2 separate regions of the Homo sapiens genome follow, and region 1 is linked to region 2. A link means that fine-mapping ties the variant in region 2 to the expression of a gene that starts in the linked region. Tissue or cell type: whole blood. Region 2 holds a variant in brackets; the other region holds the start of a gene. All regions are shown on one strand. Distances are from middle to middle.

The links. PIP is the estimated chance that this variant, and not a neighbour inherited with it, causes the effect.
Region 1: RPGRIP1 starts here. The variant in region 2 is the best candidate, but not a certain one, in a credible set for the expression of RPGRIP1 in whole blood (TOPMed, PIP 0.51).

Annotation. Positions count from the first base shown.
Region 1 is chr14:21,277,580-21,283,738 of GRCh38, reverse strand. RPGRIP1 (RPGR interacting protein 1) reads right to left here and starts at 3,656. Exons shown (of 25, transcript NM_020366.4): 1 at 3,580-3,656.
Region 2 is chr14:21,318,332-21,323,331 of GRCh38, reverse strand. It overlaps RPGRIP1 (RPGR interacting protein 1), which reads right to left. Exons shown (of 25, transcript NM_020366.4): 12 at 3,155-3,315; 13 at 1,930-2,073; 14 at 1,328-1,478. Among named protein-coding and RNA genes, the nearest start is that of RPGRIP1, 41 kb to the right of the region's middle. The variant C/T (reference allele first, on the strand shown) is at 2,751.

The DNA of each region.
Region 1 (6,159 bases), 40 kb after region 2:
TTGCAGTGAGCCAAGATCGTGCCACTGCACTCCACTCCAGCCTGGGCAAAGCAGAGTGAGACTCTGTCTAAAAAAAAAAAAAAAGTAAATCTGCATTTAGTTTACAAGTAAATCTCCATTTGAAGTACCATATATAGGGGCTGGGCACAGTGGCTCATGCCTGTAATCCCAGCACTTTGGGAGGCCGAGGCGGGCAGATCACAAGGTCAGGAGTTTGAGACCAGCCTGGCTAACATGGCGAAACCCCATTTCTACTAAAAATACAAAAATTAGCTGGGTGTAGTGGCTCATGCCTGTAGTCCCAGCTGCTCTGGAGGCTGAAGCAGGAGAATCGCTTGAGCACAGGAGGCGGAGATTGCAGTGAGCCAAGATTACACCATTGCACTCCAGCCTGGGCGACAGTGTGAGACAGCTTCTCAAAAAATAATAATAATAAATAAAATAAATAGAGTAGCATCTACAGGTTTACTTAGTCACCCACCTTCCTAGTTTCCTACTGTAGAAAAGTAATGTGAAGGAAAAGGAAAGGTGACTGCATCATAAGCTTGGTCCTCTGGACCTGAAGCCATTTGCAAAAATGGAGCTGTAGTAGAAGGGATGCTGTTGTTCTTAATATCTGGGCCCAGAGCACATTGACGCACCACCAATGCTATATGGCACTATGGAGCAATTGAAAAGTATCATTAAAACTGAAGTCACAGAAGCTCTAAGAATGAAATGGAGTTTATTGGAATGCTAGAGAAGAAAAGCCAGTTGAGACTGTCAGTGAAGGCGTGTTGAACATCCAGTGGCCAGATTTAATTTCTCAGGAATGAAAAAGTGGAATGTAGGCCGGGCACAGTGGCTCACGCCTGTAATCCCAGCACTTTGGGAGGCCGAGATGGGTGGATCACAAGGTCAGGAGATCAAGACTATCCTGGCTAACGTGGTGAAACTCCATCTCTACTACAAAATACAAAAAATTAGCCGGGTGTGGTGGCACGCGCCTGTAGTCCCAGCTACTGGGGAGGCTGAGGCAGGAGAATGGCGTGAACCTGGGAGGCGGAGCTTGCTGTGAGCCGAGATCACGCCACTGCACTCCAGCCTGGGAGACAGAGCGAGACTCTGTCTCAAAAAAAAAAAAAAAAAAAAAATGGAATGTAGATTCTAAAAGGGTTTATCAATTGTTTTGAACTCAACAGGATGAAAGACTGAAGAAACTTCCACCCGGCGTGGTGGCTCACGCCTGTAATCCCAGCACTATGGGAGGCTGAGGCGGGCTGATCATGAGGTCAGGAGATCGAGACCATCCTGGTCAACATAGTGAAACCCCGTCTCTACTAAAATACAAAAAAATTAGCCAGGCATGGTGGTGCGTGCCTGTAGTCCCAGGTACTCAGGAGGCTGAGGCAGGGGAATTGCTTGAACCTGGGAGGCAGAGATTGCAGTGAGGTGAGATCACGCCACTGCACTCCAGCCGGGTGACAGAGCAAGACTCCGTCTTAAAAAAAAAAAAATTTCCTTGCAGTGATATTCAGAATTGCAGTGCACTTGGACAAGTATAGGTTAGTGAGGGTGAAGAACCCTTTACTAGTGATAGATGGATAGACGTATAAAGCCAGCTTGATGACATCAGCAATTAAAATTTTCTTTTCCTCTTTTTTCGAGACAGAGTATCACATTGTTGCCTGGGCTGGAGTGCAATGTTGCAATCTCAGTTTACTGCAACCTCCGCTTCCCGGGTTCAAGCGATTCTCCTGTCTCAGCCTCCAGAGTAGCTGGGATTACAGGCACCTGCCACCATGCCCAGCTAATTTTTTGTATTTTTTAGTAGAGACAAGATTTCACAATTTTGGCCAGGCTGGTCTCGAACTCCGGACCTTGGGATCCGCCAGCCTCGGTCTCCCAACGTGCTGGGATTACAGGCATGAGCCACCCTGCCCAGACTTCTTTTTTTTCTTTTTTACACTCTGTATCACTGGGCAAGCATTTAAAATTTTGTAGCCAGTTCCCCTTACTCTGATTATTATTATTATTATTATTATTATTATTATTTATTTTTTTTTTTTTTGAGACAAGGTCTCACTCTGTTGCCCAGGCTGGAGTACAGCGGTATGCTCTCGCCTCACTGCAACCTCTGCCTCCAGGGTTCAAGCAATTCTCATGTCTCAGCCCCCCAGGCAGCTGCAATTACAGGCGCAAGCCGCCACGCCCAGCTAATTTTTCTATTCTTAGTAGAGACAGGGTTTTGCCATGTTGGCCAGACTGGTCTTGAACTCCTGATCTCAAGTGATCCACCCGCCTCAGCCTCCCAAAATGCTGAGATTACAGGTGTGAGCCAACACGCCTGGGCCAAGAGTAGATTTTTAAGTGTTCTCATCAAACACAAAAAATTGATGAGCATATGAGGTAATACATATTTTAATTAGCCCAAGATTGGGCAGGTGTGGTGGCTCACGCCCGTAATCCCAGCACTTTGGGAGGCCAAGGCGGGCAGATCACAAGATCAAGAGATCAAGACCATCCTGGCCGTGGCCAACATGGTAAAACCCTGTCTCTACTAAAAATGCAAAAATTAGCTGGGCATGGTGGTGCGCACCTGTAGTCCCAGCTACTCGGGAGGTTGAGGCAGGAGAATTGTTTGAACCCAGGAGGCAGAGGTTGCAGTGAGCCGAGATTGAGCCACTGCACTCCAGCCTCACGAGAGAGAGAGATTCTGTCTCAAAAAAAAAAAAAAGAAAAGCCCAAGGTAGCCATTTTCCACTCTCTCTATATATATATTTCAAAGCAACAAATTTTACACAATAAATATATACAATTTCAAATTGTCAATTAAAAATTAATTAATTTGAAAAGGAGTTTTATTCATTCTGCAGATAGTGGATACATTTCTGAGCAAAAGAGCAATATAATTAGAGCTATGGAAGAGCATTAGGAAGATTCATCTACTATTAGTGATTTGGAAATTGGGGAGAGAACAGTGTTAAGAGGATATTGCTATAGTTCAGGCAAGAAGTCTTGAACTAGGGAAGGAGGGGGGTGGGGGATGGAAGAATAGGATGGATCATGAAGACACTGAGGAAGGAGAATCAAAAGATGTGACAACTGGTTGGACGTGAGATAGAGTTAAGAGGGTGACAGGATTAAAGATGACTTGGTAATGTTGTGCTGGATGCCTGGGAGACTGGTGGTACAATAGAAAATGAATAAACCAGGCCAGGCGCGGTGGCTCATGCCAGTAATCCCAGCACTTTGGGAGGCCGAGGCGGGTGAATCACCTGAGGTCAGGAGTTCAAGACCAGCCTGGCAAACATGGTGAAACCCCGTCTCTACTAAAAACACAAAAATTAGCCGGGCAATGGTGGCGCATGCCTGTAGTCCCCAGCTACTTGGGAGGCTGAGGCAGGAGAATCGCTTGAACCTGGGAGGCAGAGGTTGCAGTGAGCAGAGATAGTGCCGGTGCACTCCAGCCTGGGCGACAGAGTAAGACTCTGTCTCAAAAAAAAAAAAAAAAAAAAGAATAAACTTATTTCATTCTTCTCAAAAACACCCCTAGGGAAGACATAGGAAACTATAAATATGCATCAGATAGAAACTTACAGTTCTTGCTTGCTCCAGATAGCTGTCGCTAATTCTTTTCTCTCAATGTTCTGGTGTCCTTTAGTACTCTAGGTTCCAATAAGCTTGTCCTTCTGGCTTGTTAAAAGAGGAGCTAATCCAGTTCTGTTTAGCTTTTAAGATGTTAACTCTTTGTAGATCAGAGTGTGTGAAGGCTGTGCTTTTTCTCTATGCATGTTTGACTTGGAGAAAGAGCAGCTTAAAGGGTCCTTAACAGATCCACTTCTCAACTAAAACTAAAGCTGAGAACACATTTGCGGGATTTGAGATTAAAAGAAATTTGTTGGTATTCAGAGGATGATCTTTAAATCTTTTATTTATTTATTTATTTATTTTGAGACAGAGTTTCACTCTTGTTGCCCAGGCTGGAGTGCAATGGCGCGATCTCGGCTCACCGCAACCTCTGCCTCCCAGGTTCAAGCAATTCTCCTGCCTCAGCCTCCCGAGTAGCTGGGATTACAGGCATGCACCACCACAGCCAGCTCACTTTGTATTTTTAGTAGAGATGGAGTTTCTCAATGTTGAGGCTGGTCTCGAACTCCTGACCTCAGGTGATCTGCCCGCCTTGGCCTCCCAAAGTGCTGGGATTACAGGCTTGAGCCACCGCGCCCGGCCGATATTCTTTAAATCTTTATCTGAAGGGCAACAACAGTGGGAGTTGTTCTGAAGCCCTGAGATCCCTTTGAAGAGAACAAACACTGCACCGTTGGTGGGATCAACATGCCTATTCAGTCCACATGTGCCAGTGCTTTCGAGTAAGAGAATGTATATCTTCCATTTCACCGTGACCACCGTTTTGAAACCAAACTTTGGGATGTAATTATGAAGCAATAGGATTTGATATAAGAAAATTAAATGTTCTTAAAAATTCTGCAAGGCTGGTCACTGCATTCATATTATATATTAAGTGGAATACGGTCTCAATTGTTACATAAAATCCTCTTTATTTATTTATTTATTTTGAGATGCAGTTTCGCTCTTGTTACCTAGGCAGGAGTGCAATGGTGCGATCTCGGCTCACTGCAACCTCTGCCTCCCGGGTTCAAGCAATTCTCCTGCCTCAGCCTCCTGAGTAGCTGGGATTACAGGCATGCGCCACCACGCCCAGCTAATTTTGTATTTTTACTAGAGACAAGGTTTCTCCATGTTGGTCAGGCTGGTCTCGAACTCCCGACCTCAGGTGATCCACCTACCTTGGCCTCCCAAAGTGCTGGGATTACAGGCCTGAGCCACCACGACTGGCCTAAATCCTCTCTTTAATGCACTGAATGGGTGCATTGAGAAAGCTCCATTCTGGTTATTGGCATGAGGTTCGGGGATTTCCAGGAGGATGAACACATAGTTAATGGGCCCCATGTGACTTCCTCTAAATCCCATGAAATAATAAAATAAAATAAAATAAAATAAAGCTAGGGAGACAATTAGGAAGTAGAGAAAGTATCCAGGACACATACATTTCCCAGTGAAGAGAGGAAAATTCAATATAATATTTTACCAGGTTTAAATGACAGATTTATAAAATTTAAAAGCTGGGCTTTTATGCACTTAAGGTTGCTTCTTGCCCAAGCTATTTCTTGATAAATCTGGGATTTTCTGTCCTTTTTTAAGATGCTCTAGCCAGAGACAGTGCAGGACAAAATTAATTTTGAAGTAAGCCAAGTTTGTGTTTGATAATCGTGTTCTCTTTTCTGAACCTCTGACTTTTGTTAATTTTTTTTTTTTTTTTTTTTTGAGACGGAGTTTTGCTCTTGTTGCCCAGGCTGGTGTGCAATGGCACAATCTTGGCTCACTGCAACCTCTGCCTCCCGGGTTCAAGAGATTCTCCTGCCTCAGTCTCCCTAGTGGCTGGGATTACAGGCACCCGCCACCACACCCAGCTAATTTTTTGTATTTTTAGTAGAGATGAGGTTTCACTATGTTGGCCTGGCTGGTCTTGACCTCCTGACCTCAGGTGATTCACCCGCCTTAGCCTCCCACAGTGCTGGTATTACAGGCGTGAGCCACCATTCCCGGCTGACTTTTGTTAATTTTTAAAACATCTCCTACCTCTTTCAGGCAACCAGTTTCCCTTAACATTCTCATTACATCTTGGAGTGAATTTACGTGATACTTTTTCCACTAGGCTTAATGTACTTCTCAATGTAGACAGTAAGACTTTGTTCTGTGTTAAAGAAATTTCAGGCCGGGCACGGTGGCTCACACCTGCAATCCCAGCACTTTGGGAGGCTGAGGTGGGTGGATCACCTGAGGTCAAGAATTCGAGACCAGCCTGACCAACATGGTGAAATCCCATCTCTACTAAAAATACAAACATTAGCTGGGCGTGGTGGCAGGCACCTGTAATCCCAGCTACTCACCAGGCTGAGGCAGTGAGAATCACTTGAACCCCAGAGGCGGAGGTTGCAGTGAGCCGAGACTGCACCATTGCACTCCAGCCTGGGCAACAAGAGCAAAACTCCATCTCAAAAAAAAACAAAAAGAAATTTCAGTCATTGGCCAGGCTTGGTGGCTCACACCTGTAATCCCAGAACTTTGGGAGGCCGAAGTGGGTGGATCACCTAA
Region 2 (5,000 bases):
TCCTGTCTCAGCCTCCTAAGTATCTGGGGTTACAGGTGCCCGCCACCATGCCCAGCTAATTGTTCTATTTTTAGTAGCGATGGGGTTTCACCATGTTGGTCAGGCTGGTCTCGAACTCCTGACCTCAGGCAATCCGCCCGCCTCGTCCTCCCAAAGTGCTGGGATTACAGGTGTGAGCCACCGTGCCCAGCCATGTCCCTTTATTCTATTCCATGCTCACTAAGAAACCTACTTACTGATTTTGCTTCCCGAAAGAGGGCTGCCCTGAACTGTGGTTCCAAGTTCCTCATGGAAGCAGTGGAATAGCCACTATTGTAAAATAACAAACATTTGGGTTTAAATATCAGCTTCTGGTTAATTTGGTTTTCGTGAGTCAGATCTTTCACCACTGGGTATAATAACAAAGCCAAGTGTCTTGACAAACAAGCCTGAGACCAGGCTCTGGTCAGCAGTGACTACACTAAGTATAGGAGGCACCACAATATGAAACTTGCATTCAGTGTCCAGCCAGCTGCCCTGTCACTGTCAGCATCCTCAAATTGCAACAAAGATTTTAGAGCTTTTAAGAGAGAAATCACTGACAAGAATAACAGGAGATGAGTGATGAAGTTCTATTATCCGACTAAAACTGCTTTGAGGAAACAGTGACTAGGAGAGAGGGACAGGGGAGAGGAGCAAGAGAGAAAGAATGAGAGAGAGAGAGAGAGATTGTGTGTTACACCACCACCCTGAGAGCCAACAGTGATACTCATTCTCACAACAGAATTAAGCCCCTGGAAGCAATTGCTGGGCCCACTTGAAACTCTACAGAGAAATCAGAAAAACATGATGGAGGGAAAGAAGCTGCTAACATGTATTAAAACAACAAAGATGGGCCGGGCGCAGTGGCTCGCACCTGTAATCCCATCACTTTGGGAGGCTGAGGCAGGTGGATCACCTGAGGTCAGAAGTTCCAGACCAACCTGGCCAACATGGTGAAACCCCATCTCTACTAAAAATACAAAAAATTAGCCAGGCATGGTGGTGGACAACTGTCATCCCAGCTACTTGGGAGGCTGAGGCAGGAGAATCGCTTGAACCTGGAAGGCAGAGGTTGCAGTGAGCCAAGATCGCACCACTGCACTCCAGCCTGAGTGACAGAGCAAGACTCCATCTCAAAAGCAAACAAGCAAAAAAAAACAACAAAAATGATAGGATAAAGAACAAGAAGGATAAGTCATATGCTAAGGGTATGAGAGGCACCCTTCTTGACAAGTACACAGAGTGGAACACAGGCGTTAGCTGTGGAAGGGTCCCGAAGTGAGGAGAACAAAGGACTAAGACTTGCCAGATGTTGGAAGGTCATGGCTTCTTAAAATACCTTCCAGCTGCTTGATACGGTTATTCTTGAGGTCTAGTAGTCGAGTCAACCTCTCCAGCTTTTCTTTGTGATCTCTATTATCATTGTCAGCTTTTGTCATCATTGCCTCCAGTTCCTCCTGAAACAAAATAATGTCTGAACTTTTCTATCTCAGTGGCCTAAAACCAAAGAGCATAAAAAATGTGGCACTGGCTAGGTCAAGAAGACTGCTATCCTTAGCTGGGCAGGTTCACCCACTAGAAGAAGGTTTGATTTCCTTGCAGACCCCTCCAAGACTAGTTGTGCTATCATTGAGGTAGGGTGGTTCCTAGGACTGGCAAAATTTGAACCCAGAAGCCTTACGCTTGCCATTGGCATGGGCTGGCCCCATCACTGGCTCCTAGTGCCAAGGTGCCGTGGGCATGTGTGAGTCCTCAAGTTCTTCAAAGGACAGCCATTGTGTGTTTGCTCAGGATAGCACATCACCTGGTATCAGCCCTGGAAACTTAGGTCTTGCTTCATTCCCAGTCCTGTGAGTGGTTCCCACGTTCCTGTTATCCATCCCCTTCCTGTACCATCTTTCCTTGCACCTGATAACACACGTTGATTTTGCGCTGCAGAATAAGCATGTCCCTGGTCTTTTCTAGTTCCAATGTGGTCTCTGCGTGTGATACTTGCAACTCATTTAGCACCTGGGACAGTTTCTTTTCTTCTTGGTTTTTGGGTTCACTTGGCTGTAGAGGGAAACGCATTGGTAAAAGGGAGTATAAATATGACAGGTAAAGTAATAATGATTCTCCATAAAACAGTTGTTGGTAGTAGTAAAATGCCAGCAGCAGAAACTACTCCAAAATGTAAACAAGGACCTGTATGACTTCACAAGTGCTCTTTCCCCTAGTTCTCATGTTCAGTAGCAGCAGTGAAGGGAGATGATACAGCCACTAATGGCTGTTTGCTCTTCCACAGATCTTTTCAAGTCCTCATCTGAAAAAGATTCTAAATTTTATGAGCTGCAAAGAGTGGAAGAAATGGGTGGAGCTCATGAAGTTCTCTACGCTCTGCCTTCTCACAGTTTTCCAAAAAGTGTCCTCAAGCAGGGCACAGTGGCACGTGCCTGTAATCCCAGCACTTTGGGAGGCTGAGTTGGGCGGATCACCAGAGGTCAGGAGTTCGAGACCAGCCTGGCCAAAATGGCGAAACCCTGTCTCTACTAAAAATACAAAAAATTAGCCGGCTGTGGTGGCAAGCACCTGTAATCCCAGCTACTCGGGAGGCTGAGGAAGGAGAATTGCTTAAACCTGGGAGGCAAAGACTGTAGTGAGCCGAGATCGCGCCATTGCACTCCAGCCTGGGAAACAAGAGCAAAACTCCATCTCAAAAAAAAAAAAAAAAAAAAAGAGTGGGCCGGGCG[C/T]GGTGGCTTACGCCTGTAATCCCAGCACTTTGGGAGGCCGAGGTGGGCGGATCACGAGGTCAGGAGATCGAGACCATCCTGGCTAACACGGTGAAACCCCGTCTCTACTAAAAATACAAAAAAATTAACCGGGCGAGGTGGCGGGTGCCTGTAGTCCCAGCTACTCGGAAGGCTGAGGCAGGAGAACGGCGTGAACCCCAGGGGGCGGAGCCTGCAGTGAGCCGAGATCGCGCCACTGCACTCCAGCCTGGGCGACAGCGAGACTCTGTCTCAAAAAAAAAAAGAGTGTCCTCAGTCAGGACAAAATATTATTTAGTTAGTTTTCTAATCTCATCATCTTCCCTAGAGATATTTGCCAGAGATCTCTCTGCAGAGTGGACTAGTTTGTTTAAAGAGGCTCTTACCTCGATCTGAGTGTTCTCTTGCAATACAGCTGGGTGAGTGGCTGGTTCAGATTGCCTGTCAGGAGGTTGGGAAATTGTGGCTGCATTTTGGAGGAGCTCTACTTCCTGTTTATGCTTCTGAAGTATGTTGGTGACTTCAAGCTTCAGATCCTCATTTTGGGCTGGGGAAAAATAATCCAGAAATGTGAAATTCTGTAGTTATTTATCACCATGGTCAGAGTTGGATCAAGTGTGAATTTAATCTTCCCACTAAGGTTTAATTAATGTTATAAATTTGAGAAGCAATTCTCTATTATTTCTACAGAGGAGGACTCTAGCTTATTGACTCAGTAAACTGAGGTGATACTACTTGCACTCCGAAAACAAAAGACACCTGCAGAATGGTAGAGTGGAAAGTGGAATAACAATAACAACACAAAACAGAAAGGGAATCACTTGACTAGGGTAATCCAAACTTTTTGACAGCAGCATCGAAACCAGTATCTCACCAACTCCACCCCCACTCCATTCTGACTTCTAGGTTACTAGCTCTCTGTGGCACCCATCTTCACACCCACCCTGGCCTGGATGGAGGATGGGCATTTCTGTGTTCCAATGTGTGTGTGTGTGTTTTTCTCTTTAGACAGTCTTACTCCATCACTCAGGATGGAGTGCAGTGGTGCGATCTTGGCTCCCTGCAACCTATGCCTCCAGGGTTCAACGATTCTTGTGCCTCAGCCTCCTGAGTAGCTGGTATTACAGGCGCACGACACTACGACTGGCTAATTTTCGTGTTTTTAGTAAAGATGGGGTTTCACCATGTTGGCCAGGCTGGTCTGAAACTCCTGGCCTCATGTGATCTGCTGGCCTCGGCCTCCCAATGTGCTGGGATTACAGGCATGAGCCACCACACCAGGCTGTGTGTGTGTTTTTCAGGGAATAAAGGTAATCGGTGTTTAGTGAGCAGATCATTTCCATCATGCATTAGAGAAGGGATTAAATTAGATTGCCCTGAAGGTCCTTACAAGACTTCATTTGTGCTTCAAACATACTAATTGGCATGTGCTCCTAAACATGGTTCTTGCCTCTATTTTTCTTGATTTCACACATTTCTTTTCCTTCCGTTCCCTATTTGAATACACTAAAACTTGATGAGATATAAATTTGATAAAACTAAATATTAAGGTCCAGGCTAGGAAAAAGTAGTAAGATGAAGGTCTTTTTGACAGTATTTAAAAATGTTCCAAATACCTATCTCCTGAGATCCAAGAGTTAAGACGGGGGTGAACTGGCAGTGGTAACCAAGAATAGTAATTTGCTACTCAATTTCAAGAATTGGATGGCAAAAAAAAAAAAAAGTATTCCAGTTACCTCTAAAATGATGAGAAGGATAAAAGACAAAGAAATTCACTTTCAATACTTTCAGCCAGGTGTAGTGGCTTTCACCTGTAATCCCAGCACTTTGGGAGGCTGAGGCGGGTGGATCACTTGAGGTTAGTTTCAGACCAGCCTGGCCAACATAGTGAACCCTCGTCTCTACTAAAATATACAAAAAATTAGTTGGGTGTGGTGGTGGGCACCTGCAATCCCAGCAACTCGGGAGGCTGAGGCAGGAGAATCTCTTGAACCTGGGAGGCAGAGGTTGAAGTGAGCCCAGATCGCATCACTGTACTCCAGCCTGGGTGACAGAGTGAGACTCTCTCAGAAACAAAACCAAACCAAACCAAACAAAAGAAAACTTTCAATAAACTGAACGTTTAAAAAACATAATAAATTAAAAACTGGCAGGTCGGGCACAGTGGCGCACGCCTGTAATCCCAGCACTTTGGGAAGCTGAGGCTGGTGGATCATCTGAGGTCAGGAGTTC